Linked DNA regions of Homo sapiens: region 1 is linked to region 2. The links come from fine-mapping of genetic effects on gene expression. A gene starts in region 2. The other region holds a variant in brackets. All regions are shown on one strand. Distances are between the middles of the regions. Region 1 overlaps TMEM11-DT (TMEM11 divergent transcript). Region 2 holds the start of NATD1 (N-acetyltransferase domain containing 1).

Region 1 (15,526 bases), 28 kb before region 2:
ATGGGATGATAGTATCTCCCCTCAGAGGATTGCGGTATTTCATGAGGTGATACGTGTATGGAGGCCAAGTGCTGTTTTATATTTTAAGTGATCTACATCTTGATTTTCACAACAACTGTATAAAAGTGATACTGTTGGCCAGGTGCGTTAGCTCACGCCTGTAATCCCAGCACTTTGGGAGGCCAAGGCGGGTGGATCACCTGAGGTCAGGAGTTCAAGACCGGCCTGGCCAGCATGGTGACACCTCGTCTGTACTAAAAATACAAAAATTAGCCGGGCATCGTGGCACACGCCTGTAATCCCAGCTACTCGGGAGGCTGAGGCATGAGAATCATTTGAACCCGGGAGGTGGAGGTTACAGTGAGCTGAGATCGCACGACTGCACTCCAGAATGGATGACAGAGCAAGACTCTGTCTTAATAATAGTATCACTTTTTTTTTTAATCAACAATCTCATTTTGTAAATGAGGAAATCAACTTACAGACGACCTGAGTGACTTGCTCACACTGCCAGCCAGGAAAGTGCTAGGATTTGAGCCCAGACTGTCCAGTTACAGAGATTACACTCTGCCATTGTGCCTCTCCAGAAGCACTGGAGGTAGGTCTAGTGCATAGAGTAAATGTAAATGCTGAAACAACTGTGGCCCTAATGAACATCCCATTTCTCCAGCTTTTTACTCTCCCCTTAACTTCTGAATGACCGTCTGCTTCTAATCTGCCAACTTGGTCTAAGATCCTCACGGTGTTTCCTCCTGATTACTGTTAATGCACGGAGGTTGTCTGGAAGGTTCATAGGCAGCCTGATTGACTCAGTATGTATTAGCTGAGCACCTTTGGAGGGCACAGCCTGAGTGGTGGGAATTAGTTCCTGGGGGCTGTCCTGCGGTGGAGACTCCCGTGAGCCCTCTGTCCTGCTGTATGAAGGCAGCCAGTGGAAAGGCATGTCCTCGCTGGTGCTCAAAGTAATCTGCTACTTCTCTTACTACACTTTTCATTCATTCATTCTTAAATCGTTGAAGGCATACTCTGCAGGTACTCTTGGGCACAGAGATACGGTGTTTAGTAAGACAAACACTGTTCCTGGGTCTTAACGGGCTTTACATTCCAATGGGATAAACAACTTAAGTAAATATTTTCAGAGAGGAGTACCAAGAAGAAAAGGAACAGGATGATATAATGGAGTGACTTGGAGATCACAGGTGGTAAGAGGTCACTCTAAAAAGGTAACATTTGAAGGCTGGGCACAATGGCTCACACCTGTAACCCCAGCACTTTAGGAGGCTGAGGAAGGAGGACAGCTTGAGTCCAGGAGTTTGAGGCCAGCCTGGGCAACATGGGGAGACCTTGACTCTACAAAAAATTTAAACATTAACTAAGTATGGTGGCACGTGCCTGTAGTCCTAGCTACTGGAGAGGCTGAGGTGAGAGGATCTCTTGAGCCCAGGAGTTTGAGACTGCAGTGAGCTATGTTTGTATTACTACACTCCAGCCTGAGGGACAGAGTGAGACCCTGTCTCTTAAAAACGAAAACCCGACTGTATCAAAAGGTAACATTTGAGTGGGACTTGAAAGAGTGTGCATGCGAAGGACTGAAGACAGAATGTTCTGTGCAGAGCGAATTAATGCAATGGCTTTGCAGTGCAGATGGGCCTGGGGTGGTCCAATAAGGTTAGGACCAAGGTGGCTGGAGCATCATGAGACAAGCGTGGTACTTAGCTTGCCTTTGGTTAAGTCACTTTCTCTATTTGAATTTCAGTTTCTCACCTGTAAAATATGAGTAATTTTATCTGTATTAGCCAGTGTGTAATTAGAGGAAAAACCATTTAATACAGGGTATTGTTTACAAAGGTGTTGGAAGGGCATGAGAAACAAGGGGAGAACAAGGGCACCCAAAGCCTGACCCCCACAAGGCTAGAGGAGCAACAGGAAAATTCGTTTCCAGAGACTGATTCCTCAGCTGCTGAGCAGGAGCCTGGAGCCACACTTGCTGCCTGGTACTACTGACACACAACTGGAACCACCGCTGTGGCCTGGGGTGCCACCAGAAGCCAGAGATTAGAATTGCTTTCCCCATCTCATATCTTCCAAACTCCCACCAGTGCCTCCCACTGGCTGAGTCAGATGACAAGGGAGTCTGGGAAATGTAGTTGTTTGGCTTCCAGCCCTGACCATGGAGAGTATAGAAAGGCAGGTGTAGGGGAGAAAATAGATGCCATTCACACAGCGCCTATCTTGCAGGGCTGTTTTGAGGAGTAAAAACTCAGCCTATTTTTATTCCTCATAGCATGTAGTAGCATTCAGGGAAAGGCAAATCTTCCAAAACAATATCTTAGGTATAATAGTTCTACATAAAGGTTTGAATTTACCATTAAAAGCATCAAAATGAGCATTTTAAAAGTAGAATTTTAAGTCTGAATGGGCAGTATATTCACATGGTATAAAATTCAAATTACAAAACAATATACAGTGAAAAATAAGGGGGTTTTTTTGCTCATCTTCTTGTGACCTGGCTCTTTCCATCTCTGTCCACAACCCTCTGCAGGCAATAACTGGTACCTTTGTTATGGATCCTCTGCAGATATAAAGTAGACATATATTAACAAATGTTTTCTTTGGCCCAGAGGATGCATATTATGCACATTCCTCCATTTCTTGTTTGTTTTTGTTTTTTCCACTTAATTGTATCTTGGAGATCACTCTGTATCAGTATATATCTGATTTGTTTTAGCAGTACATGATAATCCATTGTTTGGATATGCCATAATTGTATCAGCCAGTCTCTGGACAGTCTTTTACTATTTCAAGGAGTGCTGCAGTAAACATGTTTGCGCCACTTCCTGGTACCCATTGCAAATAAAACTGGGATAATTTCCTGACGAGAACTTGCTGGGTCAGAGTGTAGGCACTTGTTGTTTTGATAAATATTGCCAGACTACACCCCACTCCCTCCAGCAGTACATGACACTGCCTATTTCCCCACAGCTGTGCCAGCATGGTCTGTTAGCAAGTGTTTTCTTTTTGCAAATTTAAAAGTGGTATCTCGCTAAATGCAATATGGTAGCAGAGGACATTTGTGGAAAAACAGGTGAAATCTGGGCTGGGTGTGGTGGCTCATGCCTATAATCCCAGCACTTTGGGAGGCCGAGGCAGGCGGATCACAAGGTCAGGAGTTCGAGACCAGCCTGGCCAATATAGTGAAACCCCGTCTCTACTAAAAATACCAAAAAAAGTTAGCTGGGCATGGTGGTGCAAGCCTGTAATCTCAGCTACTCGGGAAGCTGAGTCAGGAGAATCGCTTGAACCTGGGAGGCGGAGGTTGCAGTGAGCCAAGATCATGCCACTGCACTCCAGCCTGGGTGATGGAGTGAGACTCTGTCTCAAGAAAGGAAAAAAAAAACAAAAAACAGGTGAAATCTGAATGGGGTCTTGAGTTCAGTTAATAGTAACTGCCAATGTTGGTTCTTAGTTTTGACACATACCATGACTATGTGAGATGTTAATGTCAGGGGAACCAGGATGAAGGCTATACAGAACTGTACTATTTTTGCGACTTCTCTGTACATCTAAAATTATCCTTAAAAAGGTTTCTTTAAAAAATGACATCTTGTTTTCTGTAAAATTTGAATTTCTCATGAGTGAAATGGAACGTTTTGAATATGATGCTCTTTTTAAAAGGTGGCCTTAATAATTTGTATTTACTAAGGAAAAAAGTCAGAGTTTATTTACTTTAAAAAAATTCAGGCCGGGCGTGGTGGCTCATGCCTGTAATCCCAGCACTTTGGGAGGCTGAGGCGGGCGGATCACGAGGTCAGGAGATCAAGACCATCCTGGCTAACATGGTGAAACCCTGTCTCTACTAAAAATACAAAAAATGAGCCGGGCGAGGTGGCAGGCGCCTGTAGTCCCGGCTACTCTGGAGGCTGAGGCAGGAGAATGGCGTAAACCCGGGGGGTGGAGCCTGCAGTGAGCAGAGATTGCGCCACTGCACTCCAGCCTGGGGGACAGAGCGAGACTCCGTCTGAAAAAAAAAAAAAATTCATTAACAGTACATTTAAAATTTCTGTTACTGGAGATTGTATTTCTCATTCCATCCATTAATGTGCAGCTTCAATGTTTTCCCCCAGATATGCAATTTCACTTACAGGATCTTGTTCTTCAGTGACATGTCATAAGAGTTAATAATTCCACAAGCCACCCTGCACTGCTGTGATCCTAACAATATTGAAAGGTTGGTGTGTATCCTTTCCTACCTTTCCTCATTCTAAAATGTTTCCTCGTTCTAAATGCCAAGCTGGTTTTGAACAACTGACCTCAGGTGATCCACCTACCTTGGCCCCTCAAGGTGCTGGGATTATAGGCATGAGCTAACATGCCCAGCCCTAATCTGCTCTTCTTAGATGGATACTTGTCAGATTGGGTTAAGACCCACTCTCATGGCCTCATTTTAACTTAATTTTCTCTTTAATAAAAGTCCAAATGCAGTCCATTCTGAAGTACTGGGAGGTTAAGATTGTGTTATTTGAATTGAAGTGAGGGTGAGGGGCAGGGGCACACAACTCAGCCCATAACACGTAGGATTAAAAAAATTCTTCGGGTCCGGGGAGGTGGCTCACACCTATAATCCCAGCACTTTGGGAGGCCAAGGTGGGAGGATCACTTGAGCCCAGGAACTGGAGGATGCAGTGAGCTATGACTGCACCACTGCACTCCAGCCTGGGTGACAGAGTGAGACCCTGTCTCAAAAAATAAAGTGAAGCCTCAGCCTCAGCATACAGTGAGGCAGTGTGTGTGTGCAGTGAATCGAAGTTCCAGTCATCATTACTTCATTTCAGGGCTCCACACTGCCATCTGGGCATCCCCAGGCCTCTCTGGACTGGCCCTGCCCCACCCTCATGGAGGTAGCCTTTACCTGGCAGGCACCTCAGAGGCTGGTCCTATATGTCACATCATTGAGATAAAAAGAAATCCAAGGCTGGAAGCAGTGACAAATGGTGTGGACTTGGTGGAAGTTGCCCAGGGAGATGGATGAGAATGGTGACATCACACATAGCACGGCTTTTTCTCCAAAATCCCAGGACTTACCACAGTGGCCACACTCTGTCTCTCACCTGTTCACTTTCTTCTGCTCGCTCGCTCTCTCTCAGCCTCCCCTGTCCCACCTTTTCCATATGCGAAGACTCTCCCCCAGCACCCCTGTGGTGGTTTAAAAGCATGGCAGCAAACTCCTCGGCATTCCTTCCTTCAGGGTGGTGCCTAAGTCCCCTCCCAGGGAATCTGAGTGGGCCTATAACTGCTTCAGTCAGCAGGGTGTAGAGGAAGTGATGCTGAATGACTTTTAAGGTTGGCTCCTAAAAGGCCATAGAGGCTCTGTCACTGGAGCTCCCTGTGCTGTGATGGAAGTCTGAAGTCTTAATGCTGAAGAAGCCCAAGCCATGTGGAGAGGCCAGGTGTCAAAGCTCTAGTGAGCATCACAGCTGAGCAGGGACAGGGCCCTCTGCTTCTTGTGGAGCCCTCTCTAGATTCCCCACACACAGAATCCACAAGCAGAATGAAGTGGCTGTGATTTGATGCCCCTGGTTTCCTTGTTATGCAGCAGTAGATCACTGAAATCAACCCCCTTCTAAAGGCCTCTCTGCAGACATTCTCCACTTGGTGAGACCAAAGCTAGCCTAACAGGGCTCAGCAGCAGAGAAGCCCAGCCATTGGCCAAAAAAGCCACTGGCTACCATGCAGCCAGGATGTCCTTGGGGAGCCTTGATCTATCCCACCACATCAACATTTCCACCTCAGACATGGGAAAGGCACCAAGGTGTGAGCATGGGCAGTACTCCTAGGGAACCCCAAGCACACCCCATTGCCCCAAGATGCAAATGGAACTCCTCACTGGTCCCATAGTTTTACAATGTGAGTCTAGGAAAGCACAGATGAGCCCTCTTTTATGTTATTGTCCGCCTTGGCGGAGAATGGAAACAGCAAGAATGCTGAGCTTGTGGTGCAGACTTGGAGATGCATTTGTCACTAGAACCTTAGCGCGTGCTTGTACAACCCTGGTGGTGGAGAGATGAATGGACGAGGCCCCTCCTTTCCATAGCTCATGTGGCCAGCCCCTCATCTAAGGCAGGGGCCAAAACAGAGCAGGAATGTGGAAGGGTGGCCAGCTGTCCTGGCTTGCCTGGGCCTGAGGGGAGTCCCAGGGCATGGGATTTTTAGTTTTAATATTGGGAGAGTTTTGGGCAAACTGGGCCAAGTTGGTCACATGAGGGTGTGGCAAGCAAGGCAAAGATGGTTTGATCATTGCAGCCCCTCACTTCCCATAGCTCACTGCAGAGCCTGTGTCATCCTGACAACAACGATGTGGAAGGTGAGACATCTGGCAGCATTTTGACTTCATGAACTGGGAAACGCACATGGGTGGAGGCGCCTGCCCACGCTGCCCAGTGTCTCATGGTGGCCACAAGAGGCTGCGGCTCCTGTTGCTCAAACAGGGCCCTGTTCTTGTCCAGCATTTCCACAGCAAGGCCCCTGCTCACACCAGACACTTCCAGGGAACCCTTGGCCAGATGACAGCAGTTGCTCTGGTAGTTAACGTTATGGGAAACAGATTCTAGGAAGCGCCCATGCATCGCATCACACTTTTTCATCTCTCCTTCTGTCCATCCTTCTGCCCACTCCTAGTTAGGGCATGTGTGCTCCAGGCTGGGAGCCAGGGCAGCCTCATGGGTCAGCCCCATCCGCAAGGAACCCATGTCTGGGGAGACAGGCATTCAAGAATGAGATATTTTCAGGTGAGTGCTAGGCAGGCGATATCACTGAACATACTTAGGGGTGAGTGGGGAAGGAGGTCTACCTAGGTAAGGAGGTATGTGAGTCTGTCCTAGCCAAATACCACAGACTGGGTGGTTGAAACAACACAGTTCCTGCTCACAGTTCTGCAGGCTGAAGTGCAAGATCAAGGTGCTGGCAGATCCCGTTC[C/T]GGCTGAAGGCAGATGTCTGCCTTCTTGTGTCCCCACATGGCTGAGAGACACAGAGAGTTCTCTCCTTATAAGCATACCCTTTCTGTCAGATTAAGATGCCACCCTGTGGCCTCATTGCACCTTCGTTGCCTCCTAAAAGCCCCGTTTCCAAGTACAGTCCCATTCTGAGGTCCTGGGAGTTAGGTCCTTAACACAGGAATTCTAGGCGGACACAATTCAGTCCCTAGCACCCCCGTTCCCAGTTGGATCAAGGCCTCAAAATGAAGACAGGCTTGTCTCACCTCACCTGTCCCTCTTCTGAGAAGCTGCAAGACTGAGAGGGAGCTGGAGATAATAGGTTGATTTGGGACAAGGACACTACAGGGTGAGGACATGGCTCTGTGTCCCAAGGTTTTGGGGCAGCAGACTGGTGGAGGACCATGCTCAAGGGTTCTGAAGGGGAGCAGCTTCCTTGGCAGCCCGAGGCCCAAGACACAGAGGGCAGAGCACACAGATACGAGCTGGGGCTGGATACATTGCTGACTCTGGGTAGAAGGCGATGGAAATGAGGGTCTGACGCTATGTTCAATCCTGTCCCACCCTATGTGATGGCTGGAGGGACAAGGGAACCCCAGTAGGATGATGGATTCCTAGGGGTTGCAAAAGGAATGGGCAGGGCCAGCCATCACTGAGACAGCACCCAGGCGGTCTCGTAGGTTTTGCTTAGAGACTGTGTGCTCCACTTGCCATTGCCAGGAGAGGCATCCACCCAGGCGTCCATGAATACATGGATACACACAAGGAGGTGCAGCCACATGATACAATGTGATTCAGCTAAAGGAGAGTGGAGCTCCGGTCCATGGACCTTGCGGAGGCACCTTGAGAACATTGTTCCGGGTGAAAGAAGCCAGACACAAAATAAAATATTGTATGGTTACAACAATGTGGAAATGTCCAGAACAGGCACATCCACAGAGACAGAAACCAGATGTGTTACTGCCAGGGGCTGGGGGCAGGAGGGAAAATGGGGATGGCTTCTCGGGGGAATGAGGTTTCTTTTGGGAGATGAGAATGTTTTGGAAGTAGATAGAGGCGATGGCTGTGCCACATTGTGGATGCACCAAATGCAACTGAATTGTACTCTGAAATGATTAATTGTACATTGTGTGAATTTCACCTAAATTTAAAGAAAAAGGTGACCATGAGAGCAAAATCTGTCCCAGCCATGGAAACCCCCGGGCTCACCTGGGTACACTTAAACCGAACTCTCTGGCCCCTTGCTGGTCTACCTCCCCAGCCCAGACCAACAAATAGCAGGTCCTGGAGATATCTGGGCAGCATCCACACATCATTTCCATAGAGCACATGCCAGGGGCCCTGGCATGAGTGGGACAGAGATGAGGGAGACCACCGCAGAGAGCCACAGGATAGATACTGTGCTGCTCACAAAGGTCCTTTAAAATTTTCCAGCAGCGGCTGGGCATGGTGGCTCATGCCTGTAATCCCAGCACTTTGGGAGGCCAAGGTGGGTGGATCACTTTAGGTCAGGAGTTCAAGACCAACCTGGGCAACACGGTGAAACCCCGTGTCTACTAAAATACAAAAAATTAGCCAGGAGTGGCAGCGTGTGCCTGTAGTCCCAGTTACTCGGGAGGCTGAGGCAGGAAAATCGCTTGAACCAGGGAGGCGGAGGTTGCAGTGAGCCAAAATCACGCCACTGCACTCCAGCCTGGGCGACAGAGTGAGACTGTCTCCAGAACAAACACAATTTTCCAGTAGCAACACTTAAAAAGTAAAAGGAGGTGAAATTATGTTTTCTCTTTGAGACAGAGTCTTGCTCTGTCGCCCAGGCTGGAATGCAGTGGCGCAATCTCAGCTCACTGCAACCTCCGCCTCCTGGGTTCAAGCGATTCTTTGGCCTCAGCCTTGCAAGCAGCTGGGATTACAGGCATGTGCCACCAAGCCTGGCTAATTTTTGTATTTTTAGTAGAGATGTGGTTTTGCCATGTTGGCCAGGCCTGTCTCGAACTCCTGACCTAAAGTGATCCACCTGCCTCGGCCTCCCAAAATGCTGGGATTACAGGCATAAACCACTACGCCTGGCCTGAAGTTAATTTTAATAATATATTTTACTTAACCCAGTATATATCCAAAAAGTATCATTTCATCATGTCAATTAGAATTTATGAGTGAGACATAGGTGGGAGTTGAACAATGAGGACACATGGACACAGGGCGGGGAACATGACACACCGGGGCCGGTGGGAGTCGGGGGCAGTGGGAGGGATATCATTAGGAGAAATACCTAATGTAAATGATGAGTTGATGGGTGCAGCACACCAACATGGCACATGTATTCCTATGTAACAAACTTGCACATTGTGCACATGTACCCTAGAACTTAAAGTATGATAATAATTTAAAAAGGAATTTGAGATATTTTAACATTCTTTTTCTTTCTTTCTTTTTTTTTATTTTTTTGAGACGGAGTCTTTCTCTCTCGCCCAAGCTAGAATGCAGTAGTGTGATCTTGGCTCACTGCAACCTCCGCCTCCCAGGTTCAAGTGATTCTCCTGGCTCAGCCTCCCGAATAGCTGGGACTACAGGCACAAGCCACCACACCTGGCTAATTTTTGTAATTTTAGTAGAGGCAGGGTTTCACCATATTGGTCAGGCTGGTGTTGAACTCCTGACCTCAGGTAATCCACCTGCCTTGGCCTCCCAAAGTGCTGGGATTAAAGGCGTGAGCCACCACACCCAGCCAACATCCCTTGTCTCCCCTCCCCTCCCTTCCTCCTCCCCTCCCTCTTCCCTCCCCTTTTCTTCCCCCTTTTTGAGACAGACTCTTGCTCTGTCGCCCAGGCTGGAGTGCAGTGGTGCAATCTCGGCTCACTGCAACCTCCGCCTTCCAGTTTCAAGCGATTCCTCTGCCTTAGCCTCCTGAGCAGCTGGGACTACAGGCACGCACCACCACGGCTGGCTAATTTTTTGTATTTTAGTAGAGACGGGGTTTCACCATGTTGGCCAGGATGGTCTCGATTTCCTGACCTCGTGATCTGCCCACCTCGGCCTCCCAAAGTGCCGGGATTACAGGAGTGAGCCACTGCGCCCAGCCAACATTATTTTTCTTCATACTGACTCTTCCAAATTCTCTGTGGGGTTTTGCACTTGGAGAGTATCTCACAGATCCTGAAACCCAGGGACTCCTAGAAACTTCTCTCCAATTCTTTAGAGAGAACGCTGCAGCTCGGAGGGGCCTCGGGGGGATCTGGTGTGACTTTTCCCATTTCCACAGAGGAAACCCAGCGAAGCCTAGGGAGGTCCTAAGATGACCCTGGGGCCCCAGTGTAAGCTTGCAGCGGAGCCAGGACCAAATGCCTGTCCCACCAGCCCTCGCCTCCCTGCTAGGGCCCAAGGCGTCTCTGCTCTTCCGGATGGAGAAAGAAGCTGCCTTTTGAGGCTGCATCTCATCTTGTGGTTTGGGGTTGGAGTTGGGAGAGAATGCCTGAGAAAAGGTCAGGTGTGGTGGCTCACACCTGTAATCCCAGCACTTTGGGAGCCCGAGGCGGGCAGATCACGAGGTCAGGAGTTCAAGACCAGTGTGGCCAATATGGTGAAACTCTGTCTCTACTAAAAATACAAAAAATAGCCAGGCGTGGTGGCGCATGCCTGTAGTCCCAGCTACTCGGGAGGCTGAAGCAGAAGAATCGCTTGAACTCAGGAGACTGAGGTTGCAGTGACCCAAGATCATGCCACTGCACTCCAGCCTGGGTGACAAAGCAAGATTCCGTCTCAAAAAAAAAAGAAAAAAGAAAATGCCTGAGAAGATAGGAATTGGTGGAGATGAGGGGACACAGGTCCCCAGGCCTCCTGGACTTACATAGCCTGGGAAGGCGGAGTCAGAAGAAGGAGGATGGTATGCGGGAAGAGAGGCAAGAAAGATGCCAGCGAGGGAGAACAGCAGGGGGCATGGGAATAATTTGGGATTTGCTTCCACGGATTGGGGGGGCGACAGGTCTTAGCTTCCTGTGGCCACTGTAGCAAATGACCAGAAATGGGGTGGCTTCAAACAGCAAGCATTTGTTCAGAAGAATGAAATCAGGGTGCTGGGAGGGCCGTGTTCCCTGAGAGGCTCTGGAGAGATGCTCCCTCCCTCTCCCACTTCTGGTGGCTGTGGCCTGCCTGGACTCGTGGCCTTGTCACGCCAGCCTCTGCCTCATGGTTGCACGTCAGCCTTCTTGGTCTCAACTCTCCCTCCGCCTCCCTCGTATAAAGACACTTGGTTGGGTTTAGGGCCCACCCAGATAATCCAGGATGATCTCCTCATCTCAAGATCCTTAATCTCACTGGGTGTGGAGGCTCACGCCTGTAATCCCAGCACTTTGCGAGGCTGAGGTGGGAGGATCTCTTGAGCCCAGGAGGTCGAGGCTGCAGTGAGCTGAGATTACACCACTGCACTCCAGCCTGGGCGACAGAGCGATATCCTGTCTCAAAATAATCATCATCGTAATGAAAGATCCTTAACCTAAGTACATTGACAGATATTTTTCCAAATATAGTGGCACTCACGGGTTCTAGGAATTAGGATGTGGGCATGTCACTTTGAGGGTCACCATTCAACGCACTGCAAAGTGACAGAGTGAGAACATCAGTCCAAAAGTAAGGAGAGACCCTGTGCCATCAGAGACGGTGTATCCTGTGGAGTCATTCAGGCAGGTGACTTGGAACAGGGAGTTTCAGCGTAGTGAGCCCTTGGTGCCTGGCTTAGGAGTGAATGAGATTAGGAGGTTACAGAGGCCTTCCTAAGAGGCCCCAAGAGTCTTCCAGACCTCAGCACCCCCATCTGGAGGGGAGCAGTGGGGCCCTGTTGCCCTCACACCTGTGTCTCTATTGTCTGAAAGTTCAGTAGAAGGGAGTTCACCACCTCTGTCACCTCTGTCAGCTCCTGCCTGGGGGCCACTCTCTCCTCACCCAGACACAGGCTCCCCAGCCAGATCACTCTGGAACTTTCCCTGGCAGCTCAGAGTGGCAGGAGTCAGAGCTGTGTTGACATTGCACATTTTTGAACCTGTCTACAGCAGCCTGGGTTGGGCACAACCTGGAATTGCCCTCAGGAGCTGCCTTGGGCCTGTGCATCAGTGAGGCCAGGGCGGCCGCCTCTGTACTGACCTGCCAGTCGGCTGGCTCTTCCTGCTTCCTTCCTGCTGCTCCAGGCCTCCCAGGTCTAGCACACGTGCATTCATTGTGGCCAGGAGTCCTGCATTGAGGCTCAGGACACCTGGGTCTCTGTCCCACCTGCCCCTAACCTGTCACCCCACCTTGGGGCCTTGGTTTCTCTCCTTTAAAAAGGAGTTGAATTATGGAAGGTTTCTTCCAGCTTGGTCCTCTGTACAGGGGATTGTGCCAAGCATGGGTGGTGGGCAAGAGTTAAGGAGGAAGGTGGCTGGCTATAGTGGCTCACGCCTGTAATCCTAGCACTTTCGGAGGCCAAGGCGGGCGGATCACTTGAGGTCAGGAGTTTGAGACCAGCCTGGCCAACATGGTGAAACTCTACTAGAAATACAAAAATTAGCCGGGCGTGATGACAGGCGCCTGTAATCCCAGCTGCTCCGGAGGCTGAGACGTGGGAATCACTTGAACCCGGGAGGCAGAGGTTGCAGTGAACTGAGATTGCACCACTGCACTCCAGCCTGACTTTTTGAGACTCTGTTTCAAAAAAAAAAAAAAAAGGAAAAGGAAAAGGAAGGTGATGGCAGGTAGGGGTTTCCTGAGAGACTATGAGGGGAGCCCAGGGCCAGAGAGAGCAGGGAAGGCCCAGCCAGCGACTGCTATCTATAGAGTGGGCCAGTGCCTGTCAGGTCACTGTATCCTCCCAGCAAACTCCTATCCTTATTTGTTCTGGAATGTTCTCAGTGGTGTCTGGTGGAATTGCTCTCCTAGGTATAAGCTCAGATTGGGTTTCTGCCCATCCTGGGGTCAGCTGAGACAGGGTAGTGTGTGTTGTAGGGAGAAGCACTGAGCTGCCCTCTGACATCCTTCGGCTACAGGGACCAAAACGAGTTTAGGAAGGGTGTGATCTGATACGTTTATTCTTTTTTTTTTTTAATTTTCATTTTTCTTTTTTTTCCCCTCTTTTTTTTAGAGACGGGGTCTCGTGTTGCTCAGGTTAGAGTTCAGTGGCTATTCACAGGCATGATCTCACTGCTAATCAGCATGGGAGTTTTGACCTGCTCCGTTTCCAGCAGAGGCTGGTTCACCTCTCCTTAGTCAACCTAGTGGTCCCCTGCTCCCAGGAGGCCACCATGTTGGTGCTGAACTTAGTGTGAACACCTGATTGGCATAGCACACTACAGCCCAGAACTCCTGGGCTCAAGTGATCCTCCCGCCTCAGCCTCCCGAGTGACTGGACTACAGGTGTGCCCCACGACACCCAGCTAACCATTTTTTAATGAAAAAAAAGTGTAGTTTTCTCCATTTTTTTCATTCAAAAATCTTTCTTTCAGCTAATACTTATAAGCACCTGCTTTGTGCTAGGCTTATTTGTGCAGTAAATTCTTTTTTTTTTTTTTTTTGAGACAGAGTCTTGCTCTGTCGCCCAGGCTGGAGTGAGGAAGCCCTAATATATAATCTTCAGTCAACTGTTAATCTGGAAGCCTCACCACATTGCTTTTTGGATTAGCAGAATGCCATCCTGGGGAATCCCAGCAGAAAGGAAGAAAGGAGCACTGTCAGTCTTACTGGTCACCCCTGGCCAAGGCCCAGTCATGACCCTTCCTTCCATCTCCATTTGATCCCATCATAAACCTCAAGAAAAGTAAAAAGCATCATCATCTTAGGAAAAAGTGTGGCGGGGGTGCTCAATATGTTGATCATGTTATGGCAAGACTCCAGATTATCTCTCTTCTTCTTTTTTTTTTTTTTTTTTAGGCGGAGTCTCACTCTGTTGCCCAGGCTGGAGTGCAGTGGCGCAATCTTGGCTTACTGCAAGCTCCGCCTCCCGGGTTCACGCCATTCTCCTGCCTCAGCCTCCCGAGTAGCTGGGACTACAGGCTCCCGCCACCATGCCCAGCTAATTTTTTGTATTTTTTAATAGAGACGGGGTTTCACCGTGTTAGCCAGGATGGTCTCGATCTCTTGACCTCGTGATCTGCCCGCCTCGGCCTCCCAAAGTGCTGAGATTACAGGCGTGAGCCACCGCGCCGGGCCTTGTGCATTAAATTCTAAAAGCAACGCTCGTACGGAAATGCAGGCATTTTGTGAGCAGCGCCTGGTTCCCTCCTGGCTGTGCAGCTGTGGGGCCTGGCTGTCCTTACTCTCCAGTGCAGGTGGAGCTCCTGTGGAAAGTGCAAAGGGTCCTGTTTCCAGGGCTATGAGTGCTGTCACTTGTCACTTGTATGCTTGCGCCAGGGCACCCAGTGGGGCAGGCATGGAAGCTTGTTGCAGCAGCACCCTCCTCCCTGCCCCTGGAAACTAACATGACCTCAGCAGGACAGGCCATTTCTGGGAGGCAGCCTGTCCACATGGAACACGTTGCCATGGATGGTATGATGGTGGTCAGCTGCATGGGTCATCTGGCGCAAGACTGGCCCAGGCATCTCTGATCTTAGGGCTGACAAGCGCTGGATGAAGAGTAAGTGGTGGTCTGGGCTCTGGCCCCAGTGACATCATGCGCTTGCAGTGGCCCTGAATAGCCACCCCTGCTTCTGCGCCTTCTTTCTCTGCTTAGAAATGAGCCCTGCCATCACGCTGGACCCTTCATCCACTCAATATTTTTCTTAAGTGGGTTCATTCTTTGAACACTGAAACATATTATTTAAAAGGGAAACTGGCCGGGCGTGGTGGCTCATGCCTGTAATCCCAGCACTTGGGGAGGCCGAGGCAGGTGGATTGCTTGAGCCCAGGAGTTCAAGACTAACCCAGGCACCACAGGAAGACCCTGTCTCTACAAAATATCAAAAAATTAGCTGGGAATGGTGGTGCATGCCTGTAGTCCCAGCTACTCAGGAGGCTGAGGTGGGAGGATTGCTTGAGCCCTGGAGGTTGAGGCTGCAGTGAGCTGTGATTGTGCCACCATCCTCCAGCCTGGGAGACAGAGTGAAACTCCATCTCAAAAAATAAATATTTTATTTAGAAAAGGAAGCTCTGTGCAGCCACCTAAATGGAACACCTGTATCATGTGCAGGTAACTGCAAAAGTAAATACAATGAAGACCAAAGCCAAAATATTATAAAATTCCAGATAGACTTGGCTGCCTCCCTACATCTCGGTGCCTGGGCTCTGCATTTGTTGGAGTTAGGGGCGTGCTGGCCTGGAGCTGAGCCCTACTTCACCTACACAGGTGACTGGAAGATCCTTGAAGAGGGAGGCTCTTTCCCAGCAGGTGAGGGGTGCCATTGAACTTGGGGCTTTGCTCTATCTAGGAAGGCCTGCCAGCCGGCGTGCCTCTGAAGAAATGCTCACCTGTGAGCAGGGAGCGCTCCCTAAACGCTAGTGGTGGGATTCTCCCTCTCTCCACTGGGCCTCAAAACACAGGCTCTTTGTTCACATGGCTGGAGACTGCCGAGGGTTTGGCT
Region 2 (15,526 bases):
CCCGGTCATGACATCCTGGGGGTTGTGGAGACAGGTAAGCCTATGCTGACTCCCATCCCAGCGGACTCAGGCACCAAGACGGGTGGAGGGACAGGCATTTGGAGTCATTCAGCTGCTACAGCTGAATCCTGAATAACCTCTCAGTGCCTCAGTCTCCTCATCCATAAAGTGGAGGTACAATAAAATGTCCTTCATAGGGTGGTTTGGAGGATTAAATGAGGTAACCTCTGTGACGTGCTTACAGCCATGCCTAGAACACTTGAGCCCCACATGAACCTTTGCTACTGCGTCAGTCCTAGCATCCCAGGGCCCTGCCACCCCTTTCTGTAGCCCTGCTCCCTGCATCCCCACCCCACCACATCCCTGGATCTGGGAGTCCCAGAACCCAGCACTGGACACAGAACAGGGCTCAGCAAATCTGCAACTAAGGCAGAGCATGAAGAGATTAGAGAGGCAGCGCTGCGCCACGCATCAGGACCACCTGCTGGACCCTGAGAGAGACGCAGCAGGAAAGATCAGAGGCCTGTGGTAGAGTTCATGAGAAACTGACGCTGGGCACAGGAGGCAGGAACAAACGGGTTTTCACACTCCACCAGGCCTGCCAAGCCTGGAGCTCACCAGTCCACCCCAAACTGCTGCTGGGCAAACAATTAACTGAACTTTTTCCTAATCACAGTTTTTAGTGTCTCATCTATTTGTCTCTCCACCTACCCATCCATCAACCCACCCATCCACTTATCCATCCACCAAATGTTTCCTGAGCCCCAGGTACTGTTTCAGATGCTGGGAGTATAGCAACAAACAAGCTAGACATGGAGTCCTACCCCCATGAAACCGGAAGGGGAGAAAGAGAATAAACATGAAAAGCAAGTGATGTGTAGGATGCCAGGGAATGGGGGCAGGTGAAGACAGGAAGGAGAGGGCACCAGCCATTCTGAGGGAACAGTGTTCTGGGCAGAGGGAACAGCCAGTGCAAAGGCTCTGAGGCAGGAGTAGGCCTGAATGAGGGGCCGCTGGAGTGGGGTGGGTGAGGGGAAGGGCAGAGATGGGGGCAGGGAGGTGATAGGGCAGGTCCTGCAGAGCCTCCTAAGCCTTCTGAGCTGGGCGCCACTAGAAGGCCCTCAGCAAAGGGACAGATGTGATTCACTCTTTAAAATCATGCTGTGTTTCATGAGTTTTAACTTCAAAGCCCCAGAAAATCTGCCCTTAAAGCCTGTGCTGGGCAACACGAGGGGAAGGCTGACAGGCCAAGAGGTCCAACCACTAGTCCAGGGCCACCGGAACTGGGGCCAACGGCAGCAAGGAGGCCTTCTGGCTCTTGGTATCTCCTTTGATTCTCCCCAAAGCCTCAGGAGAGTGGCTACAATTCATCTCCCCATTTCCAGATGAGGAACTACTGAGATGCAGGGATCCAAGTCACACAGCAGGCCAAGATGACGCTGGAGCCCAGGCCTGCAGGTCCTGAGCCACAGCCATTCTTTCTGCTCCACCGACACACCTGCTACTTCCTGCACCCGCCATCGCCTAGGCACTTCCCTCTGCCTGATGCCCTTTCTCCGTTCCTGCCAGGCCCAGCTGAGGGTTCCCCAGCCCCACTCCCCTCATGCCTGCAGCCCCGCCCCCACACCAGCCCTGCTGCCTCCTCCTTGTGGGCCTGACTGTCCTTCTGTGGACTATGCCTGCCACCCTGGCCAAGGCCCAGCTGTGGCCACTGCCGCCTGTCCTGGCTGCACAGCAAGGGATGTGGTTCTTGGCTCCCCACCTGCTGGGGTTAATTCAACTCACCCAGGACAGGAGAGCAGAGATCGGAGGCTATTCTGGGACTGACTCCGTCACCAAGGGAGCTGCCTACCTAGCCTGGCCATTTAATTACCCCAGGCTCATTGAGGGCCTACTGTGTCCCAGTAGGGTTTGGGCTGCAGGGCAGGCAGCAGCGAACAAAACTGATGAAACTCTTCCTCATGGAGATCTTACGTACTGATGAAGACACACAATAAGTAATATCATTATAAATAATACAGGGGCCAGGCACGGTGACCCACTCCTATAATCCCAGCACTTTGGGAGGCCGAGGTGGGTGGATCACCTGAGTTCAGGAGTTCGAGACCAGCCTGGCCAACATGGTGAAACCCCATCTCTACTAAAGATACAAAAATTAGCCAGAAATGGTAGCGGGTGCTTGTAATCCCAGCTACTTGGGAGGCTGAGGCAGGAGAATCACTTGAACCCGGGAGGCAGAGGTTGCAGTGAGCTGAGACCGCATCATTGCACTCCAGGCTGGGCAACAAGGGCAAAACTCCATCTCAAAAAAAAAAGAAAAAAAAAAAAAAAGCTGAGCATGGTGGTACACACCTATGGTCCCGGCTATTTGGGAGGCTGAGGCGGGAGAATCACTTGAGCCCAGGAGTTTGGGGCTGTAGTGAGATATGATTGTTATCACTGCATTCCAGCCTGGGTGACAGAGTGAGACCCTGTCTCTAAATAAATACATACATCACAGAGGCCACACAGGTGATAAGCTGACAGGTGCCAAGGATCACTATACAGCAGAGGAGGGGTGGGGAGGGGCAGGGCTGCCACTGTAAAGAGGGCATACAAGGACCCCAAAGGACATGTGGGGTATGAGCCGCCCACTGGTGAGAACAGCACGTGCAAAGGCCCTGGGGTAGGAGGTTGAAGGAAGAGCAAGGAGGCCAGAGTGGCTGGGCCCAAACAAGCCGGGAGTGAGGGTTGGGAAACCAAGTCAGAGATCCTGGGGCCAGACCACACAGGGCCCTGCAAGCCACCAAAAAAACCTCAGCTTTTGCTCCAGCAGTCTCTGCAGAGCAGGGAGGTGGATACAAGAAGCCTGGCAAGCTCATTACTACTCCTCTGTGCACACCCTGCGTCAGTGTTTCTGGAGTAGCCACCTGGGCCATGGATGGACCTGACCCTGGGAGTCCTCAGAACTTCTCTGCCTCCCATTGACCCTCAGTGATCGCACAGCTCAGCCACTACCATATTCCAGGCACCCAGCTCGGCGTAGACACCCAAGAAATGTTTGTCCAACTAAAACAACTGCTTTCTGTCTTTGCCAGACACACACTAGGGCCTTGTGGCAGACCTGTGGACAACTGGCTGGACCAGCATGCTGGCCTTCCCACAGCCAGGCCTGCACCTCAGGCTGTGGCTCCCAGGAGACAGCAGGACAGAAGCGGTGGTGGCCCAAGCGTGTGCAGCCCCAGCACAGGGCAGGCTCGTGCTCTGCTCTCTCCACACAACGATCCTCACAACCATCCCACTAAACACGATTCTCACAGCCCCATGTACAGATGGGGAAACCGAGGCCCAGGAGGGAGGAAGGTGGTGGTGATCATCCCGGGACAGGTCAGTTCTCTGGGGCAGAGAGGTGTCGGGACTGGGGTAAGATCACCTGGCAGAGTTGAGACTGGAACTGAGGGCCCTGCCCTGCCCTAAGCTTGCTCCTGTGGCTCCCAAGTGACAAGTCCTGCCCCCCTGTGCTAGTCTGAGGTCTGGAGCTCTCAAGGCAGCTCTTAGAGCCTAGCCCAGATAAGGGCCTATGGCCTGGACCAGGCCTAGAGGCTATGCCTGTGTCACTGTGAGCCGAGACAGCAGGATCCACAGTGCCCAGAAGTGAAAGCGTGGCTGACAGTGCTACCCTGGTGTCCTGCTGTCCCGTCATGGGTGCTGCGGGCAGTCAGGGGAGGCCTCTGGGCAGGTGACGTTTGGGCTCACCTGGAATGAGAGTCACGGAGGTGTATGGAGTTGACTGGGGATAGGGCTGAGTCAAAGGAGGGTCTTCAGGCTGAAAGGGGAACAGAGGGCATCTGGGGTGGCCACGGTGGTGGTGGGGCTGTATGTGAGGAAAAGACCGAGTTTAAATGGACACCCTACATGGGCCAGACCACATGGCACTGGGCCAGCGAGGAGCCAGGCTCCTGGGCAGCAACCTCGGAGCATCTGGCCAGGACCTGAACCCCACCTTGGAGGGCCTTCAAAGGCCACCCAGTCACAAGTGTTACACCCATGACACAGGCCACAAATGCAATACCGGTCCTCACGCTCAACTCCTTGTCCTGCCCCAAACCTGCCTGGACATCCCAGGAAAATGCCCAAGTCCCCAAAGCTTGACCAAGGTCCTTGGCTCCTCCTCACCTTTTCTCATCTGACCTGACCCTCGGCAGGACCGTGGACATGGCTTTCTAAACATGCCTGGGGTCCAGCTGCCTCTCTGGCCTCCCTGCCTTGGTGGCTGCTCCCCTGCCTGTCACCTTTCTGCCCAGGGCCTCCGGGGACCCTTCCTTCTCATTTCAGGTGAGCCCAAAGGTCACGTGCCCAGAAGCCTCCCCTGACCACCCGCAGCCCCCATGATGGGACAGCAGGACACCAGGGTAGCACTGTCAGCCACGCTTTCACTTCTGGGCACTGTGGATCCTGCTGTCTCGGCTCACAGTGACATAGGCATAGCCTCTGGGCCTGGCCCAGGCCCTTATCTGGGCAGCTCTAAGAGCTGCCTTGAGAACTCCAGACCTCAGACTAGCACAGGGGGGCAAGACTTGTCACTTGGGAGCCACAGGAGCAAGCCTAGGGCAGGGCAGGGCCCTCAGTTCCAGTCTCAACTCTGCCAGGTGATCTTATGCCAGTCCTGACACCCCTCTGCCCCAGAGACCTCACCTGTCCCTGGATGATCACTACCACCCTCCTCCCTCCTGGGCCTGAGAACCCCACCAGCATCACGTGACTGGTTTGGGAAAAGTTAAAGCTACACTGCTCGTGGGGGACCCGTCCCTGGGTCTCTGCACCCCCATGCTCTCTCTGCCCCTCCTGAACCTCGGGACCAAAGGGGGCCAGGAAATTGTCAGGGGAGGCGATCACAGAGAAAGACCAAAGCTTGCAGACAGGGGACAGGGGCAGGACCTCTGGGAGATGTGGAGTCTGCAGAAGACATTGACCTCTGCTTTCTCCACTCGGCCCACACTGACCCCGCAAGGAGAGCTGGCAGATCAAAACGCGAATATACAGATGAGGAGACTGAGGTAGACGGAGGCAGAGCCCAGGCGCCAGAGCTGTGGCACGGGACAAGGACAAGCAGACACCCTGGCCGGCTTTTCTGGCACCTCTGTAAGTAGAGCCTGGATCAGGGAGGTGCCACATGTTGGTGGTTCATTGGTAGATTAGGCAGAGGGAGCTGTGAGCCTGGAGAAGCTCAACCATACGTCCCTCCCCTCCCCAGAGGACCCTGGTCCAGCCCAGCCCAACACAGCCAGCGGCCTCATATTGGGGCTGTGATCTGAGCACCTCCCAAAGCCTGGGGCTGTGATCTTAGCTCCACTGCATCCAGGGGTGCTGAGGGAGGCCAGGGGCAGCAGCTGACTCTCTGGGGCCTCAGTCTTCCTGGCTGCAAAATGGGGGTTAGGGAGGACGCAGAAAGTTCCAGGGTTCTGCACCCCTCAAGTGTTCCTTTCCTTGCAGCAAGTGGGACACTCAGCCCTGCCTGTGAGGGAAAGGGAAGGCTAAGGAAGGGGCTGCCCAGGAGGTGGGGGTCTCTTCCAGCTGCCTCCAACCTTCAGAAACCGTCCTCAGATGGAGGCCGGGGGCTTGATTCTGGCTTAGCTGCCTACAGGCTGTGCGCCTTGGTTTCCCCATCTATAAAGTAATGACAAGCTTGCATTTCAGAACCAGGATATGGCATCAGACAAGCCTGAGCTCAAGCCTTCCCTCATCACCCACAAGCAAGTCACAGCCATGCTTCCTTCCACATCTGTCCAGGATCTAGACGTTTCTCCCACGCCTGTTTGCAGTGCCTGGACTAGTAAAGTAACCACCTCCCTGCTCTGTCCTGGTCCCCACAGTTTGCTCCCCTTAGAGCAGCAGCTAGAGGGAGCTGGGGCATCCCATCTGTCTTCTGCTCAGGACCCTCCTGGGAGCCTCAGAGTCAAAGCCGAGCCCATAGGACAACGGCTTCCAGGCCCTGCACCACCTGCTCCCCATGACCTCTTGACCCATCCTGCACACACAAGGCATCGCAGGCACTGCAGAGCCTTTGCTCTTGCTATTCCCTCCACTTGGAACACTCTTCCCTGTTGCAGCTCTGTTTCTTGCCTCCTTCAGGTCTTCACTTAAATGCCACCCTCCAGGGAGGGGCCTTCCTAGACACATGATTGTAAATAGCAGCCCTGCCCAACACAGCCTCCCCTCTGCCCCCTGCACCTCTCATGAAAGCCCTTGTTTTCCAGGATACTTTAAAACTGACTCTATTTCTTGTCCATTTCCCTCTCTAAACTGTCAGCCCCAGGAGACCCCGACACCTAAAAGAGTGCTTGGTACATGGTAGGTGCTCAACAAATACTTGCGGGGTGAATCACAGCTCTTCCACCTCTGTGGTGCAAGACTTTGGGCAAGTCATTTCACTTCCCCATGCCTCAGTCTCCCCATCTGTATATGGGAAATGCAGTTTCCCCTCTCCCTGTGGTGTGTGGCTATGAAATAAAGTGACTCCAGGTGCCCAGGGCCTCCTAGAACACTGTAAATGCTTAATAAACAAAGGTGCTCAAACGTTTTCCCTCACTCAGAACCAGAGCTCGCAGGAAGAGAATCAGCCTAGCTGTGCTATGTGGACAGCCTAGGAACACTTCTGCACCAGGAGCCTGGGGCTACCTGACCCCTCAGCCTCAGTGTTTATATCTCTCAGTGGGCACAACAGCACCAGCCTCCAGGCTTGCCTTACAGGTCGGGAATGACACCACAGCCTGTTGTCCTCCTCAGCTCAGGGAGGCCTGGGCTCAGACTCAGACGACCCCTCTCTGGTCCCAAGACACACACCCAAACCCAGTGGGGCCTGGAAGCCCAGAAGAGCCCCACCCTGTGCTGCACAGCCACTCCCTTGGGGGCCTCTGGCCTCTCTCTTCTTTCTCCCCTGGGCTTGGCTGGGGAGATGCCCAGCCACATCTGTGGTCAGCTATCTGGGCAGTGAATTCCAGAAGGGGGTAAGTTTAGAAATACGGCTGGGCATGTCCAGCCCTGACCACGGCCAGCTCTGGAGGGCTGTCCTTTGGCTGTACCCACTTGGAAGAGAAAGAAAAAGAAAAAAAAAAAAAAAAAACAAACGTATCCCCTCTTCTTTCTGTCTCTGAGTATAATGGCCCTCCCGAGCCCACAAGGGAACCAGAGGCCGCTCTGGAACCTCAGAAGAGAGGATTTGAAAGCCATGAGGCCTCTCTCCCAGAGTCGCCAGGGCCCCGAGTGTCCTGGCCAGCTGAGCCCTGCCAGCACCACAGCAGTAGCAGGACTTGCCTCTGCCTGGTGGTGTAGGGTTGGTTGGGCCAATGGTGAAGTTCTGGGTGATGCTGGGCAATCACTTCCTAAGGTCCCTAGCCTCAGTTTCCTCATCTGTAACACGGGGTGGTATGTCACAACATTGTCAGGGTATTGTGACAGTCCCATCCACGAAGCTGTAGTGGGGCCTGGCTCGACACTCGGCACATTCCAAATGGCATCGGAGATCTGGCAGAGGCCCCTCCTGGCTGAAGCCAAATGTGGGTCGCAGGAGCCCCACCGTTCAGGGAGTCAGACCAGTCAGGACGCCATCCCAGCTCTGCCCAACTCTCAGCCTGACCTCTCGCAAGCCTTTCCCTTTCCTGGCCCTCCACCTTCCCTTCTTGAAAATGGGCACAGTGGCCCCTAAGGACCGGTCCAGCTTGGACATTCCCACTGGGGCGAGGTGGGCCACAGGGAGTTCATAGCCCTTGTTTTTGTAGTTCTATTTCCTACCTGTGGGACCTCCTGAGGGGGGATGGGCTAATCAAAACTTCTCTACACTGGCAGGGCGTGGTGGCTCACTCCTGTAATCCCAGCACTTTGGGAGGCCATGGCAGGTGGATCACCTGAGGTCAGGAGTTCAAGACCAGCCTGGCCAACATGGTGAAAGCCTGTCTCTAATACAAAAATTAGCTGGGCATGGTGGTGGGTGCCTGTAATCCCACCTACTCCTGAGGCTGAGGCAGGAGAATCACTTGAACCCAGGAGGCAGAGGTTGCAGTGAGCCGAGATTGTGTCACAGGAACATTGTGTCGCCTGGGCGACAGAGTGAGACTCCATCTCAAAAAACAAAAACTTCTCTACACTAAGGGAGAACTTGCCCTTGCTTTCTGGCTTCACGAATCACGATCGGGCCACGTTTACCAGCACTTACTAATCCCCCATGAGCTGGTCTGATCCTTTACATTTGTTACAGTCTTTCATCCTTACAACTAGCCAATGGGGTGTGCACTGGTATTATTCCCATTGCAGAGAGGGAGAAACTAAGGCACACAGAAGTGAGGCAAATGGCCAGTCCCAGAGCCACTGAAGTCTTGATAGTGATAGCCATCCCCCCGCCCCTCACTCCCCCCAGGGGACCACAAGCCCCTTTCGCGGTCAGCCCCAGGTCCGCAGGCCTCCCCCGTGTAGAAAGACTAAGATTCCCAGGGGCAGCAGGAAGCCATATACCACCCGCAGAAGGGGACAGGTCACGGCTGACCAACTTTCCAGGATCTCAAACAGGAGCCTTCAGTGGGTGCCCAACAGTCGTGAACAAGTGGGCCTGAGCAGGTGCGGGTCCCCTGCGGCTGAGACAGGGGACCCGCGCTGCCCCAGCTCCTGCCTCTGCCTTTCCAGGGGCCCCTGTCCGCCCTGGCCCCTGCTCTCCCGGGAAGTCTGCCCCCGCCCAGCCCGTTCCACTTCCCGGAGCGCCGGCCGCGCCCCCACCTGGCCCCGAGCACAACCCGGCCCGCGCCCGGAGCTCCGGCCGCCCGGGACCACCCCGCGGCGCGCGCTTGCAACAGCCTTCCCGGGCGGCGGGCCGGAGCCGGGCCGCGGGCGCGCGGGGGACAGGCACCCAGCAAGGGGGCGGCCCCGGCGGGCCCCGCTCGCTCGCAGACAAAAGGTCGGGGCGGGCCGGGGCCGCCTTACCGTTGAGCCGGACAGTGAACTGGCGGCGCCGGCGGTCGTGCTCCACGCGGATGGGGCAGCCCTGCTCCAGCGCGCCCAGCGGCACGGCGGCAGCCGAGTGCGCCATCTGCGCGCGGGGCTGCGGCGCGGCGCCGGCGGGGGCCGGGGCGCGCGGGGAAAGGTCAGGCGCGCGGCGGGGCTGGAGCGCGGGCGCAGGCGGCAGGCGGTGGGGTAGTTACGGCCTGGGAGACCGCAGGCGGCGGCGCTGAAAGTGACACTCGGCGGCGGCGGCAGCAACAAAAAGGGTGGGGGGGGGGCCAGGAAATCAGCTGTGAGGTCACGTGCGGCGCGCAGCCAGTGGACGCGCGGCCTTTTTGTTTTGATACATTCCAGTCACCTCTTAAAGGGGCCGCGCCGGCCGCGTTCCTCTCGCAGCCCCAAACAAAACAACACGGGCCGCCGCCGCGCCGCGCCGGCTACTTTTCCGTCTTGCGTTTGTCCCACGTGCAACTTTGGGACCCCCGCAAGGAGCCTTCTAAAAAAGACGTAACAATCTTTTGTATGGACATTCTAATCGTCCCCAAGGCAGCCACCATTTATTAAGCACTTGCTGTGTGCACGGCCTGTGTATAGCAAAGCCCTGGCGCACAGGGCGCTCAGTAATCACTGCGCTGAGATTTATCACCAGAAGCCTGAGAAATAGGTATGCTTGACTCCATTTTACAGATGAGCAAATAGAGGCTAAGACAAGTGAAAGACATGCATAAGTTCTCACGCAGCTGAAGCCCTGGGGCTACTGGTGCTAGGAGTGCGCACCCACCCGTGTTGGCAGCCTGGGTGGCTACTGGCTACTGGGAAGGAATTGTCCTGTGAAGCCTTGTTTGGGATAGGAGTGAAATGCCACCTCTCCCAAAGAGAGGCGTAAATGCGGGAAGAGGCCTTGGGGATCCCTGGATCCACTCCATAGATGGGGAGGCTGAATCCCAGAAAGGGGCAGGGACTTGCTTGAAGACACACAGGACTGTTGGGGCTCAGACTTCTTTGAAAGGCGCCTTAATTAGGCTCCTCAAGGCTCAACCTTAGAGCCACACCCTCCCCTCTTGCTCACCTGAAGGGGCACTCCTGTTGCCCATAGCTGTGCAGTGAATCATACAGGTTACTTTTAATATTTTGCTAATTACGGTGCAAACTTGATGTTCACACCCGTGTGACCACCATCCAAATCAAAATACAGAACACTGGTGGTTCCCTAGGGCCCTCTTCCAAGCAATGCCCTACCCTTTGAGGTAACCACTGTCCCTGACTTCTAGTGTTGTTGACTAATTAGGTTTCTCTAGACCATCATGTAAACATAATCATACAATATATACTATTTTATTTTATTTTAAGACGGAGTCTCTCTCTGTCGCCCAGGCTGGAGTGCAGTGGCTTGATCTCGGCTCACTGCAGCCTCTGCCTCCTGGGTTCAAGCGATTCTCCTGCCTCAGCCTCCTGAGGAGCTAGGACTACAGGGCTACAACAACAAGCCGGGGTAATTTTGGTATTTTTAGTAGAGACAGGGTTTCGCCATGTTGGCCAGGCTGGTTTCAAACTTCCAACCTCAGGTGATCCATCCGCCTTGGCCTCCCATCGTACTGGGATTACAGGCATGAGCCACCGCACCCAGTCCAATATGTACTTTTAATGTCCAATTTCTTTTGCTCAATATTTTATCTGTGAGATTCATCCCTGTTTTTGCATCTTTTTCGCCACTGAGTAATTATTCCATTGTGTTGACAAAAAAAGCCAAACTGTAAAATATTTGAAGAGCTTATTCTGAGCCAAATATGAGTGACTATGGCCCTGGACACAGCCTCAGGAGGTCCTGAGAACATGTGCTGGAGGTGGTCGGGTTATAGCTTGGTTTTATACATTTTAGGGAGACAGAAGTTACAGGCAAAGACCTAATACCTGTAAGGTGTACATTGGTTCGGCCATCCAGAAAGTGGTGGGGGCTTACAGCTCATAGGTGTATTCAAATATTTTCTTTTTCTTTTTTTGAAACAGGGTCTCGCTGTGTCACCCAGGTTGGAGTGCAGTGTCGCCATCTTGGCTCACTGCAACCTCTGCCTACCTGGCTCAAGCCGTTCCTTTGTCAGATATATTTACCGAGAATATCCTCTGATCCTCCCATCTCAGCCTCCCAAGTAGCTAGGACCACTGGAATGGGCCACCACACCCGGCTAATATTTTTGTATTTCTTTTAGAGATGGGGTTTCACCATGTTGCCCAGGCTCAGGCGATCCATCCGTCTCAAACTCCTGACCTCATCCACCTGCCTAGACCTCCCAAAGTGCCGGGATTATAGGTGTGAGCCACCCTCACCTCGCGCCCCCACCCCACCCCCCCAATTCAAAGATTTTCTGATTGGCAAGTGGTTGAAAGAGTTAAGCTTTTCCTAAAAAGAGTTGATGTCAGAAAGAAATACTCGAGTTAAGATAAGGAGGGGTGTGTGGAAGCCAAGGTTCTTATTATGTAGATGAAGCCTCTAAGTAGCAGGCTTCAGAAAGAATAGATGGTAAATGTCTCTTTTAGGACTTTAAAAGGTGTCAGACTCTTAGTCAAATCTCTCCTTAATCAGAAAAAGACCCAGAAAGGGAGGGGGATTCTCCACACATGCAAATTTCCCCCACAAGAGATGGCATTGCAGGGCCATTCCAAAATAAGTCGAATAATATATTTTTGGGTAAAATTCGTTAATTTCCTTCGGGGCCTGTTATCTGTCATGCGATGCTATACCAGAGTCAGGTTGGAATTTGTTATCTTAGTGCTACAAAGAGTCTGTTTTGGGTCGGGCGCGGTGACTCACGCCTGTAATCCCAGTACTTTGGGAGGCCAAGGCAGGCGGATCATGAGGTCAGGAGATCGAGACCATCCTGGCTAACATGGTGAAACCCCATCTCTACTAAAAATACAAAAAAATAATTAGCCGGGCGTGGTGGCGGGCGCCTGTAGTCCCAGCTACTCCGGAGGCTGAGGCAGGAGAATGGTGCGAACCCGGGAGGCAGAGCTTGCAGTGAGCAAAAAAAAAAAAAAAAAGGAAAAAAAGAGTCTGTTTTGTCAGTCTAATTATATATATTTTATGGGTTTTTTTTTTTTTGAGACGGAGTTTCACTCTTGTTGCCCAGGCTGGAGTGCAATGGCACGATCTTGGCTCACCGTAACCTCTGCCTCCTGGGTTCAAGCGATTCTCCTGCCTCAGCCTCCCGAGTAGCTGGGATTACAGGCATGCACCACCACGCCCGGCTAATTTTGTATTACAGCGTGCTACCATCCTGGGCTAATTTTTTTCAGTTTCATAGAGTTGGGGGCCTCTCTGTGTTGCTCTGGCTGGTATCAAACTCCTGGACTCAAGTGATCCTCCTGTGTTGGTCTCTCAAAAAGTGCTGGGTTTACAGGCATGAGCCACCATACCTGGCCTTTGCTGGATCTTATAGTAGGTGTATATTTAGTTTTGTGAGAAATTGCCAGAGCTTTTTCCAAAGCGGGTGTACCATTTTACACTCCTGCTGACAATTTTGAGAGTTTCATTCGTTGTACACTCTTTTCCAAGTTAGCCATTCTGAATGTGAAGTGGCATCACATTGTAGCTCTCACTTGCGGCGGCCTGTTGAATGGAGATGTTGAGCCTCTTTTTATATGCTCCTTGGCCATTTGGATATCCTGTTGTGAACACTTTGGCCAACTGTTGTGCCACAGTTTTTGTGGCGCAAATTTAATTTTTTTAATTTTTAAATTCATTAGAGTGATTTTTGTTGTTCAGTTACCATTCCTTTGTCAGATATATTTACTGAGACTAACCTCTGCTAGCATATTTTTATTGTTATTTCAACCAGTGTGTCTTGTATTGGGAAGTTTGTAAACAAAACAAGGCTAGAGAGTGAGTCTTTACATGCAAGGAGACAGAAAGTGATTCTGGGGTCAGGTAAGTCCTTGACCTCAGCTGAGTCATGTTGGCTGCAGTCCTGAGCAAGCAAGATGTAACCTCATGAGTGTCTCAGGTGACTTCTCCATCTCCAGAGCACTTAAGTGGTTTAGGGAGGCCAGAACGTGTTCCTGAAATCTCTTTTTTTTTTTTTTGAGACAGAGTCTTGCTCTGTCACCCAGGCTGGCGTGCAGTGGCGCAATCTCGGCTCACTGCAAGCTCCGCCTCCCGGGTTCACGCCATTCTCCTGCCTCAGCCTCCCAAGTAGCTGGGACTACAGGCGCCCGCCACCGCGCCTGGCTAATTTTTTTTGTATTTTTAGTAGAGACGGGGTTTCACCATGTTAGCCAGGATGGTCTCGATCTCCTGACCTTGTGATCCACCCGCCTTGGCCTCCCAAAGTGCTTACACGCTTGAGCCACCGCGCCTCCTGAAATTTCTTGAACCGGCCATACTCGTTCCCTCCTCTGGGCCTATGCATGTGCTGTTGTCCAAACATCACCTCCTCTGGGAAGCCCTCATCTCTGCAGTCACATTTATTTAGTGTCTGTTCCCCAGCTATCCTAGATCCAGGACAGATTCCTCTCTCATCAGTCCCTGGCAGAGCCCAGCACACACCAGGGCCAGTTAAAAGCCAGGGTCTTCCTTGTCTCTGGCTCCCTTTCTTCTCCCCTGCTTTTGAATATACTTAGCTTACTGGCATCTTTTCACCTTGCAGAAATCCCTTCTGGAACAAGGATAAACAAAAGAACCAAGTGAGCATTTACTGTCTGCTGAGTCAGTGGATGTGCTCTGCCTCCCTACCCTGGGGAAGCAGTATGTGCCGAAACCCGGCCATGTGGAGACCAGGTTGTAGACGTAGGATATCATTTATTCAGTCAGTCATCAGTTCATTTAGCAAATATTGGATGCTTACTGCATACCAGGTACTGTCATAAGGAGACCCAACAGTGAACAAAACAAAAAACTCCCTGCCCTTTAGGAGCTGATGCTCTAGTTGGGGGAGAGACAATAAGCAAAGAAGAAAATAATGATCTGGCCGTTCACATGGCCCAGTGGGAGATTCAGCAGGGGGCAGGGGCGTGCTCCTGGAGGAGGTCATGGTTTCAGATTGGGTGGCCAGGACAGACATCAGCTGATGTGGAGTCTTTTATGAAAGGCTTGAAGGAGGGGTCGGGGTGGTGGCTCACGCCTGTAATCCCAGCACTTTGGGAGGCCCAGGTGGGCAGATCACCTGAGGTTAGGAGTTTGAGACCAGCCTGACCAACATGGAGAAACCCCATCTCTACTAAAAATACAAACATTAGCTGGGTGTGGTGGCACATGCCTGTAATCCCAGCTACTCGGGAGGCTGAGGCAGGAGAATCGCTTGAACCCAGGAGGCGGAGGCTGCAGTGAGCCAAGATTGTGCCACTGCACTCCAACCTGGGTGACAGAATGAGACTCGATGTCAAAAAAAAAAAAAAGACTTAAAGGAAGTGAGGGAGTGAATCAGGTGGTATAGGGGGAAGGGCAGAAAGAGTGGCTGTGCAGAGGCCTTGGGGTGCGTTTCCAGAACACAGGGAAGCCAGCGTGGCTAGGACAGAGAGACCCTGGAGGACAGGGGATGAGACCAGAGGTCCTGCAGGCGGATTGAGGGGACTTTGGCTTGGACTCTGATCTGGGAGGGATTGGGGCATGATCTTGTCAGAGGCGTTTGAACCAGAGTGACTCCATCTTGTATAGGGGCTGGGTAAAATAAGGCTGAGACTTGCTGGGCTGCATTCTTAGTAAATTAGGCATTTTAAGTCACAGGATGAGAAAGGAGGTCAGCACAAGATACAGGTCATAAAGACCTTGCTGATAAAACAGTTTGCAGAAGACCGGGCGCGGTGGCTCATGCCTGTAATCCCAGCACCTTAGGAGGCCGAAGCAGGCGGATCACGAGGTCAGGAGATTGAGACCATCCTGGCTAACACGGTGAAACCCCGTCTCTACTAAAAATACAAAAAAAAAAAATTAGCCCGGCGTGGTGGTGGGCGCCTGTAGTCCCAGCTACTTAGGAGGCTGAGGGAGGAGAATCGCTGGAACCCGGGAGGCGGAGCTTGCAGTGAGCCAAGATCGAGCCACTGCACGCCAGCCTGGGCGACAGAGCGAGACTCCGTCTCAAAAACAAAACAAAACAGGTTGCAGTAAAGAAGCCAGCCAAAACCCACCAAAACCAAGATGGCAATGTGAGTTACCTCTGGTCGTCCTCACTGCTCGTTATGCACTCATTAGGATATATTAGCATGCTAAAAGACACTCCCCCACCAGGGCCATGAGGGTTTACAGATGCAATGGCAATGTCTGGAAGTTACCCTGTGTGGTCTAAAAAGGGGTTTAGCTCTAGGAATTGCTCACCCCTTTCCTGGAAAACTCATGGATAATCCACCCGTTGTTTAATATAAAATCAAAAAACTATCCTTAGTCCAGCAGCTCAAGCTGCTGCTCTGCCTATGGAATAGCCCTTCTTTTATTCCTTTACTTTCTTTTTTTTTTCTCGAGACAGAGTCTTGCTCTGTCGCCCAGCCTGGAATGCAGTGGCGTGATCTCGGCTCACTGCAGCCTTTGCCTCCCGGGTTCAAGCGATTCTCCTGCTTCAGCCTCCTCTGA

Evidence for each region. PIP is the estimated chance that this variant, and not a neighbour inherited with it, causes the effect.
Region 1: its variant is the best candidate, but not a certain one, in a credible set for the expression of NATD1 in whole blood (TOPMed, PIP 0.53).

The regions. Positions count from the first base shown.
Region 1 is chr17:21,216,241-21,231,766 of GRCh38, forward strand. It overlaps TMEM11-DT (TMEM11 divergent transcript), which reads left to right. Exons shown (of 2, transcript NR_184102.1): 2 at 4,125-4,493. It also overlaps the pseudogene RN7SL426P. Among named protein-coding and RNA genes, the nearest start is that of TMEM11-DT, 9.7 kb to the left of the region's middle. The variant C/T (reference allele first, on the strand shown) is at 6,974.
Region 2 is chr17:21,244,210-21,259,735 of GRCh38, forward strand. NATD1 (N-acetyltransferase domain containing 1) reads right to left here and starts at 9,201. Exons shown (of 3, transcript NM_152914.3): 1 at 8,950-9,201; 2 at 1-15. The coding sequence starts at 9,055. RefSeq lists enhancers at 1-599, 4,831-5,332 and silencers at 8,823-8,942, 9,093-9,202.